Linked DNA regions of Homo sapiens: region 1 is linked to region 2. Evidence: fine-mapped expression QTL. A gene starts in region 2. The other region holds a variant in brackets. All regions are shown on one strand. Distances are from middle to middle.

The links. PIP is the estimated chance that this variant, and not a neighbour inherited with it, causes the effect. A credible set is the group of variants that fine-mapping cannot tell apart.
Region 1: its variant is the best candidate, but not a certain one, in a credible set for the expression of COPS5 in T cells (TOPMed, PIP 0.54).

The regions. Positions count from the first base shown.
Region 1 is chr8:67,213,079-67,218,611 of GRCh38, forward strand. It overlaps ARFGEF1 (ARF guanine nucleotide exchange factor 1), which reads right to left. Exons shown (of 39, transcript NM_006421.5): 31 at 4,925-5,060; 32 at 4,704-4,842; 33 at 3,512-3,584. Among named protein-coding and RNA genes, the nearest start is that of ARFGEF1, 130 kb to the right of the region's middle. The variant T/TA (reference allele first, on the strand shown) is at 3,358.
Region 2 is chr8:67,059,543-67,064,542 of GRCh38, forward strand. It overlaps COPS5 (COP9 signalosome subunit 5), which reads right to left and starts at 2,591. Exons shown (of 8, transcript NM_006837.3): 1 at 2,312-2,591. The coding sequence starts at 2,454. It overlaps CSPP1 (centrosome and spindle pole associated protein 1), which reads left to right and starts at 4,850. Exons shown (of 31, transcript NM_001382391.1): 1 at 4,850-4,996. RefSeq lists enhancers at 2,258-2,347, 2,528-2,797 and silencers at 4,728-4,867, 4,806-4,993.

The DNA.
Region 1 (5,533 bases), 150 kb after region 2:
ACGTCAGCACAACAGAGTCATGGAGCAACACGGGCCCAGCATAGATGTCACAGTTCTCAAGGGCAATTCAGAATGATACTTTTCTGTGAAATCTAAGTTTTAACCGTTGACAATTTGTTAAGAAAGTTAAAAGTTGTGGGGAACAAATCTGGTCAGTTGGCGTTAGTTTGCTACTTTACAGCCTCCTGGCTTTAAAATTCAAAGGTATTATTGGGAGAACAGTACAAATTTGAAAAGACCTGTAGATTAAATAAGAGTATTGTTTCAAGGATAATTTTTTGATTGTTAGGGATAAGTGGGCATTGTGTTTACAAATTACTTCCAAAGAATTCAGAAAATTGTGTGTCTGGGAGGCAGGGTAGCAAGATAAAAAGAGGGAGGACAGCTGGGGTTGGTAAAAACAAATGTAAAATGACAACATTTGGAGAAACCTGGTGTAATGATTACTTTTGTGTCAATTTGGCTAGGACACAATACCAATATCCTATGTACTTAAGCCAGATACTTAAGTCGAAGGAGTAACAATTAATTCAATTAAACACTATTCCAGGTGTTCAGCTGAAGGTATTTTATACATGTGGTTAACATCTATAGTCAGCTCACTTTTTAAGGAAATTATCTTCAATAATCTAGATGGTCCTTATCCAATCAGTTGAAAGCCTTCAAAACTGAGCAAAACAGGTTTTCCTGGGGAAGAAATCCCGCCTGTGAACTGCAGCTTCAGCAGCAGCCCAAGGCTTTCCAGCCTGCCTGCCTGCCCTACAAAATTTCAAACCTGCCAGCCTCCACAATCACGTAAGCCAGTTCCTTAAATCTATCTATACAAATCTCTCCTGCTGGTTTTGTTTTGCTGGCCCTGATAAAGATTTTGATACCATGAAATGGAATGTGGCTGTAACAAACACCTAAAAATGTAGAAGTGGCTTTGGAACTGGGCAATGGTAGAAGCTGGAAGAGTTCTGAGACACATGATAGGGAAACACCTACATTGCCCTGAAGAGACTGTTGGTAGAAATATGGATGTCAAATGTAGTTCTGGTGAGGATCCACAAGGAAGTGCAATGTGTGAGAGAAAGCATCTACCATCTTAGAGAAGACATGTATGGCCATGAAACAGATTATTGGTACAAATATGAATGTTAAAAGGTGCTTCTGGTGAGGTCTTAGAAGGAAATCAAGAACATGATATTAGATACTGATAGGTGATCCTTGTTGTAAAGTGGCAGAAAGCTTGGCTGAATTGTTGGGTGGAAAGCAGAATTCTAAGTGATGATATGTAGTTGAGATTTCCAAGCAAAGTGCTGAAGGTGTGGCCTGGTTTATCCTTGCTGTTTATAGTACAATGCAAGAAGAAGATATATTGATGAAAGAACTGTTAAGCAAAAAGAAACTGCCAGTTGATGATGTGAGAGGATCTTGTGCCTATCGAGATTGAAAACGATGCTACAATTAGGAAATGAATTGTTAGGAAAGCATGCTTTGGAGAGAAGGCCAAGGCTATAATAGCTGGACAACTTTTTGCCAAAGAGATTAGGTATATATCTAGTGGAGCCAATCGATCATCTCAGCAGAAGCCAGGAACATAACAGGACTATCCAGAAAGATGTGTGGATCACACTCTTGTTTAATGGCATGGTTTCTCTTAACACATACAGAAGACCCACAAGGATTTTGAGAATGATATACCAGCAGACATATGGCCAGCCTAGAATGAAAGGGACAGAAACAATAAGAGGAAGGGAGGCTGAATTCTAGGATTCTACAGGCAGAAAATGGGTCAACAGAGCTACAAACGTGCTAACCTTTAAGAAAAAGAAGAACAACTGAGAGTGTAGGGCTCAGGCCCGAAGAAGCCAGCCATAGCCCCAGAGGGCAGAATATCAAGCCACACAGCATTATTCTCAGGCCTTAAAACTCAACGGAATTGTCCCTGCTAAGTTTCAACCTTGCTTAGGACTGGTGATCCTTTGTTCCTTCCAATTTCTCCTTTTTGCAATGAGATCGTATATCTTATGCTTGTCCCACTACTGTATTTTAAAAGTTACAAACCTGTTTTCTAGGTTCACAGGTCCACAGATGGAGACGAATTCTGCCCCAGAATAGAGCATACTCAAGAGTGTCATCCATCCTTAATGCAGATGCGGATGATCAGATTAGGGACTTTTGATTATATTTATAAGGGATTTTGGACATAGTGTTGATGCTGTAATGAGTTTAGACTTTTGGGGACCTTAGAATGGGGTGACCATCTTTTGCCGATGGGATGGACATGAATTTTTAGGTGTCAGTGGGTAGACCATAGTGGCATGAATATTGTCCCCTAAAAAGTATGTTCAAGTCCTGACCCCTGATACCTGCAAATGTTACCTTACTTGGAAATAAGGTCTTTTCAGATGTAATTAACGATCTTGAGATGAGATCATCCTGGATTTCAGGTAAACCCTAAATCCAATGACTAATGTCTTCATAAAACAAAAAGGAGAGGGAGAGATTTAATTCACACACAGTGAGGGAGACTATGGATAGATGGTGGCAGAGATTGGAGTGATATGTGAACAAGCCAAATAATGCCAAAGGTTGTCAACAGCCGCCAGAAGCTGGACGAAGCTAGTAAGGATTCTCCCTTAGAGCCTTTGGAGGGAATGTGGCCCTGCTAACTCCTTGATTTAGGACCCATGGTCTTTAGAACCATGAGATAGTAGGTTTCTATAGTTTTAAGCCACCAAGTTTGTGGTAATTTTTTATGGTAGAACTAGGAAACCAATACACTGGGTGAAGTGAATGTTAGAATTCTTTGTACTGTTTTGTGTTACTTTTCTATAAGGTGAAATTATATAAAAATAAAAAGTTTAAATACTATCCAACAATATCTTCAGCTTTGCATGGAGACAGCTACGTAATCTGGTACCTTTCTCTCACAACCCTTAAAAAATCATTTTGTTCTATGTCCTATATTTAAAAATAATTTAAAATACTCCCTTCATGGCACTTAACAAAGACACATATTAATTGTCTGTGACATTGACCAAAGAATTAACTTCACAATTCTGGACAGTAAATTTATACCATCTTCTTAAAAGAGTCAAACGCATTGCAATGATATGAATGTTTGCATTCCCTCCTAAATTCATAATAAAACTTAATCCCCAATGCAACAGTATCAAGAGGTAGAGATTTTAGGAGGTGAGTAGGCCATGAGAATTAGTGCCTTAAAAAAGGACTGGAGGGAACTAGCTAGGCCCCTTTCTGTCCCTCCTCCTTCCACCACGTGAGAATGCAGCAACGTGGTGCCATCTTGGAAGCAGAGAGCAGCTCTCACCAGACACTTGATCATACAATTCCCAGCCTTCGTAATTG[T/TA]AAAAAAAAAATGTCTATTTATAAGTAATCCAGTCTCAGATATTTTTTTAATAGCAGGAATGGATTAAGACAATTACATGTAAGAATTTGACCCATAATAAAATTACTCATCACAAATAACTAATTTCAATATACTTTACTGATTAAAACTTACCAATGGCTTTTCACTTACAGGAGATGGAGGTGGGGGGGCAGTTTCTCCAGAATTGGGTCGCCAGGTCAACAGCCTTTAAGATACCAAAACCACGTCAATCACTAGGGGGCTGTGCCACATGCCACATCCAGCATATTTTGAAATGGGCCCAAGAAAGTAACAAGAACATACCAACTAAACAGTCCATCTTTGACCACTGCTAATTTTAGCAATTTCCTAAAAAACATCTAGTAAAAAGTTTAAAATATGTACTTTTAGAAAAAAATTAAGTGGCATTTAATATAATTAAAAGGGTAATATGGTCACCAGTTTTGCATTAAAAGAACACTTTCTGATAAGTTTTAAAGATTTCAGACCTCCTTTCCCTAAGTATTAATATCAAATATTTTCCAAAGTAAGAGGCTTCTCAAAAAAAAAAAAAAATCATAAAATTGGCCAGGCGCGGTGGCTCACGCCTGTAATCCCAGCACTTTGGGAGGCCAAGGTGGGCGGATCACCCGAGGTTGGGAGTTTGAGACCAGCCTGACCAACGTGGAGAAACCCCATCTCAACTAAAAATACAAAATTAGCCAGGCATGGTGGTGCATGCCTGTAATCCTAGCTACTTGGGAGGCTAAGGCAGGATAATCACTTGAACCCAAGAGGCGGAGGTTGTGGTGAGCCGAGATTGCGCCAATGCACTCCAGCCTGGTAAACATGAACGAAACTCCATCTCAAAAAAAAAAAAAAAAACCTACCTCACTATAATTCCATTTCACACTCATCCCTTAGAGAAAGATGACAAGCTGTTACGAAATACGAAATATAGTATGTGTAAATACATTTTCCTTAGATTATTAAAAGATCAGTAACAGAAACAGGCTGAGATTTTTTTTTTTCCAATTCAAAACCACTGCTTGGTTTGATCTGAATAAATAAAATCTTATAAAAGTCAGCAGAATCACTTCATTATGTCCCAAATTTTGGTAACCAGACTAAAGGTTTTGGTTTATAAATAGTTTAATTTATGTATTTGTTATAGTTTATAGCAGTTTGGTTTGTAATAAATCTAAATCCATGTAAGAGTAAGACAAGCTTAAAAGGATTTCTGTTATGAGAAATCAGTAGTCACTATCAAACTTTTAATCACTAGTCACTCTCCAACTCATTCAATATACAAATATAAATGTAAAGTTGTATAAAATCTTCTTACGCATGTGGGATTGTGGTTTTGAAGATATCCAGTGTGCAGTTGCAAGTTTTATCCCAGATTTCTAGGGTAAATTTTTCACCATTCAGAATAACAACATTCTCTAAACAGTTTGTACCAGATCGCGCTAACTGCTCATTGTCTAGGAAAGAAAAGAGCAATTCATTTATATATTACCAGGGTCACATTTAACACTTTGTGTCACATATCTGGTACAGACCTACCTTGCTGCACACACCAGTAGAGCTGAGCAAAAATGTCATCCAAAAGTACATCACTGAGTACTTCTAAATACTGAGTGAATACATCACAGATTGCATAAAGTGCATGATTGCAAGTTGTTGTCATCCATTCAGCTTTCTGGGGAAAAAAGTCATTAATGAACATCACGCCATTAATCAACTACTATGATTAAAAAAAAAAAAAAAAATATATATATATATATATATATATATAAATGTTTTCATATTAAAAATGGAAGGCTGTCAGTGTTCCTTTTAGACCCCTGAATTCCCTCTAGAACGTTATATTCACCTCAACTTAAAATCTGATATCTATTGCTCCTTATTATCCCATAACCACCTATGTATACAATAATTTAACCATTTTTGGCACTGCTTGTTTTGATTATTAAAAAAAACCATCACCGTATCATCTTGATACTAACATTATGATTTTTCGAAGTGCATGAATAGCAACGCCGGCCTTGCTCTAGAATATGACAGAACATGAAAGGGAAATAAAGAGGTAAGAATTTGTCCAAATGGGATTAGCATAGGTTTAAAATAAAAATGACTTTCCTGAAGTATGGTTATCTGAAAACACCATAAAAA
Region 2 (5,000 bases):
GAGCGATGGAAAGGGAGTGTAGACTACGGGGAGAAAAAGTAAAAAAGGACAGTTTTTGCAGGCTGGAAACAATAAGTATGTCATAGTGCAGCAACGTATCCCCCTTAGGGGAGGGGAAAAGTCTGAAATACTTTTTTAATATGCTATTCAAATAAGGGAGTAACATGACCAGTTCAACAGACTTTTTCTCCATTAATTTGGAATCACCCAATCTTGGATTCTGACTGCTTGGATGGTTGTGCCTAACTGTTCTGAGGCCTAACCTTCTGGCCTAATGGTTAAGAATGTGGGTTCTGACATTCATCTGCTAAGGTCTGAATCTTGACATTGCCATTCCCTAGCTGTGGTATTGGGACAACCCTGTAATATCTGTGCCTAGGTTTCCTTTTCTGTAAATAGGGATATTCATAATTGTTGTTAGGATGAAATAAATGAAATAATGTATATAAAGTGCTTAGTGCCTTACACATACTAGAACCCTAATAAGTGCTAGCTGTTATCAGCATTATTAACCTGTCTCTTAACCCTACTCTCAAAGAACAGAGTGTTGAAGGGTGGGCTTCCCTGTTATATCAGCCTTAAATTAAAAAGTAGCCCTAATATCCTAGTCTCCTATGATCACTATTTCAGAGTTGGTCATCAGTGAATTAAACTCTTGAATAAAATTACATTTTGGTCTCATTAATGCAGCCCAAGACAGCTAGGATGAATATAATTAGAGCCACAATTAGACAGTGAGGCAGGCCAACAGTTTCCAAATATTTAAGAGTACACGAACCTAAAATGCACAGCCTGTTACAGAAGCAAGCAGATAACCAAGCAACTTAAGCAGCCTTACAGAGCAGTCAGTCAACGTCTCTACAAAGCCTTTTTAGATGTCTGCCCACAGAAAGAATCCAAATTTAATTCCTAAGCTTTGCCAGATTTCAACCAAAAGCTGAAAAATGTGTAGACCTCATGTTGGAAGTCAAGACATGAATCGAAATCTTGGCTTCTCCCTTTACTGGAGAAAAGAAGAAAGACAAGTTACTGTGCTCCTATTACATACATTCTAGACGACTCTTTTTATACATTATCTCACCTAATCTCTATGACAATACCAATAAGTAGGTCTTATTTCCATATTATGACAAATGAAGATGGATAAGTAAATTTCCTAAGGTCAATCAACTAGTTAGTGACAGCTGTGAGATTTGATCTTAGGTCTGACTATTGCTCAGTTGAGAGTTCACTTATGTCAGTATGATCATAAATTACATAACGTATTTGCTTGTTTTTTAATTTGTAACAAAAGGATGGATATACTGTACTGGGTTGTCATGAAAATTAAATGACGTGGAAATCTCTAGCTAGGTGCTTCCGCAGTTCACCATTGTGGAATCTGAATACTGAGAGACAAGGCTAGCCTTGTAAAAAAAACTGTGAGGCAGTAGAAGTATGTCCTCTTGTTGACCACAGCTTTCCTTTCTATCTAACCATTAGCTTTCGTGCTCTTTTTACTCTCAAACATAACCCGTAATAATTATCTTTTCCTGATAGCAGGAAATCTCTCAGGAGATGCTCTCAGGAAAAGATAAATATTATGGGTAAAGATCCCTCGACTTGTCACCACTCCCAGGGAAAAATGGATATTGTTGAAGGGCAAAAGGTCTTAAGCTCTATTTTTATAATTTCTGGCTTATGGGAACTGGTGGAGTAACATTTTAGAGACCAGGTAGTAGAGCCTCCGTGTGCCTCCGAAATAATTACCAGCAATCAAAAAACTATTATAGGCCCAGGCCTCACGCCTGTAATCCCAGCACTTTGGAAGGCGAAGGCGGGAGGATCGCTTGAAGGCAGAAGCTCGAGATCAGCCTGAGCAACACAGCGAGGACCCATTTCTATTAAAAAAAAAAGAAAAGAAAATAGCTCATAGCTATTTTTGAGACCTTGGGCTGCTGACTCGATTTCTGAAAACAGCTGCAATCCCCAGTTTGGGATTAGTTGAAGACCCAAACAAGGTGCATGTCGACACTGGGCTCAAGGTAGGGTGTGTGGCATATATGACAATACGGATGTTCAGAAGTGACAACTTAAATCACCGCTTGTTGTTCTCCCCTTACATCACCCGGGGGCAAATGGATTAAAGCGACAGAAAGGGGAGTGAAAGCCCCAGCGGAGGGCTTAGGCTCTACTTGCAGATCCAAGACGCATATTCTGTCCCCCTCCCAGTCGGTGAAAGCTCTTCACCCCTTTCACCTCCCTCTCCCTCTGGGTCTCTTAAACTCCGCCACCCTTTCCCTCCCCTGCGTCTCGCCAGGGACCTCCTCACTCCTTAGTCCAGGGCTTCGCCGCCAGGATTTCTTGCTGCTGTTTCTTGTCGTATTTGTAGATTTCATCGATACTCTGAGCTTCCTGCATGTTGTTGGCCAGTTCCCAGGTTTTCTGGGCCATACCGCTCCCGGACGCCGCCATCGCCGAGGAAGCGGAGAAGTTGTCGTCTCTACAACCAAGACGCAACTTTACCTCGCTAGGTTTCCGGGTGTGGGCCTTGACCCTCCGCACCACGGGAACAAACTCTTACCTAGACTCTTGGGGCAGCCATGACACCTAGAACCGGAGGTGAAGTTGGTAGAGACCATTCAGGGAAGACAGGGACCTTTCCGGGACATGACGATATAAACAGCAGTTACAGTAATAGCGAGAGACGAATCTTCTTGTTGCTTAAATGAGAACATCTTGTCTCGGAAAATTATATGTGTGAAATAGAACAAACAAAGTTATAGGGTATGGGAGTGGTATAGTCTTCCGCACCGGAAGAAGGGCATGTAACGTTATTCCAGAAACTGGTATTTGCCTTCTCTGCTTCTAATGCGCAGGCTCGGCCTCCGCCATATTAAAGGTAGCTGGAGCCTTAAGAGCGGGATGTGGAGGGCGGAAAGTGTTTTTGTGTGGGTATAGGTACCTTAAATGAGATAAGTTTGTTGAAAGACTAAAAGGTAAGGCTGTCTGTTGTACAACTGAGCTAAAAGTCGTTCTGGAAGCTGGTTGAGAGGAAGATAAACATGGCATTCCCGTTTACTTCAAGATGACTCACTGTACATGCGTAAAAGCTAACGGGCTCGTGGTGGCTTGGCACTTCACTTGCAGATGGGCTTTTTCTATCGATGCGAGGAGGCAGTGGGTACTCCTTGATTGCTTTTTTGCGCTTTGGTAAAAGTTAACATCTACGTATATATAATGTGCCATTACTGATCTGAAAATGTCCAGTACTCAGTTCTCGTAACAGGTTACAGTTAAATCTTTGGCACTCCTGTGAACCGCATTTGTTCCCAAAGCGTAATTAATCTGGGTAACTGGTTTGTTTTCTTCCTACAGTTAATACAATGTTTAATTTTTTTATTAGTTCACGTGTTTTAGGTTTTCTTTTTTCTCCATCTCATTCTTCCATCCGTGCAAGATTTTAAGTTTCAAGACACAGGGAGCAGGTCTGCGTTCCTTGTTTTATCTCCTAGCACCTAGCATAGGTGTTCAAGATTTTTTTTTCTTTTATTTCCTGAAAAGATAGCATGACAGGCCAGGCGCGGTGGCTCACGCCTGTAATCCCAGCACTTTGGGCAGCCGAGGCGGGCTGATCACTTGAGGTCGGGAGTTCAAGACCAGCCTGGCCAACATGGTGAAACCCCGTCTCTACTAAAAAAATACAAAAAAAAATTAGCCGGGCGTGATGATGTGCGCCTGTAGTCCCGGCTACTCATGAGGCTGAGGCAGGAGAATCGTTTGAACCCAGGAGGCGGAAGTTGCAGTGATCCGAGATTGCGCCACTCCAGCCTGTTAGACAGAGCCAGTCTCAAAAAAAAAAAAAAAAAAAAAAAGAAAGAAAGAAAGAAAAAAGAAGAAAAAAGAAAAGATAGCACCACAGCTGTTAACAACCTGGCCCCTATGCACCTCTTCCAGCTTCATCTCTTTTTAGTCCCCCCTTGAAACTTTTCATTCTAGCAATGCAGATATCTTTACTTTGGCTTTGCATATGTGGTCAGCATTGCTTGAAACGCTCTTTCGTAAATTTTCTGCCTGGGAACTCCTATTAATCTTTAAAAATGCAGTCCAGTGAGATCGACCACGAACTCTTTCTTGACGCTCCAATTACCATTCCTTCCATTATGTCTGTAAGTCTCCGTAGGTGCTTCTATAACTGTTACAATGCGTTGTAATAATCAGTTAAGACAAAAACATTAGAATTATTGAATCCACACCACAGCTTGCTGTTTTGGCACTGACTTTCCGTTGAAGAAAATTTCCTTTAAAACCATCTTACAAAGAAATTTAGGGTAAAATAGTACATTAATACCTACCCTTAGTTCCACTCTCCTGGGAAACTAGAGGTCTCTTTTCTAGTGGTAGCATATGGCCATATGCGATTGTATTGGGGTGAACTGAATAATATGTTGAAAATGGTAATGAAAGCCCAGGACCCAACGTTGACCACACTCCTGGGCTAGGAGTAATGCCCTGAGAGGTATGCCAACACTTTTCCTCTCACTACCACCCCTCCCCATTTTTCTTTCCAGGCTCTTACACTGTTCCTAAGCTGGCTGGTGCATGGGAGGCTGGAGAGGCTGCAATAGATTTAGCCTGAGAAGTGGCCCCCACAGTTTAATAGCCCCTGGGCACAGCAGGAGAACGAGTTGACCAAGTCCCCGGCCAGCGTACTGGCGAACCGAGAGCAGCGGGCAGCTATGCGGCCTCCAGGACAGCAGGGGGCGATGTCTTGCCGCGCGGCCGCCTGCAGTGGGGGCGGGGCCGTACCCGGCGGTTGGCGAAGGGCGAGCGGAGGGCTGGGCCTGAGGGGCGGAGCCCCGGCCCGGAGGTCTGTCATGCTGTTCCCGCTCCAGGTGGCCGCTGTAACCTCTTCGGTCCGCGACGATCCTCTAGAGCACTGTGTGTCTCCCCGGACGCGAGCCCGCTCCCCTGAGTAAGAGTCAGCCAGCCGCGGATGGGGAGCGTGAGTGGCGAGGTGT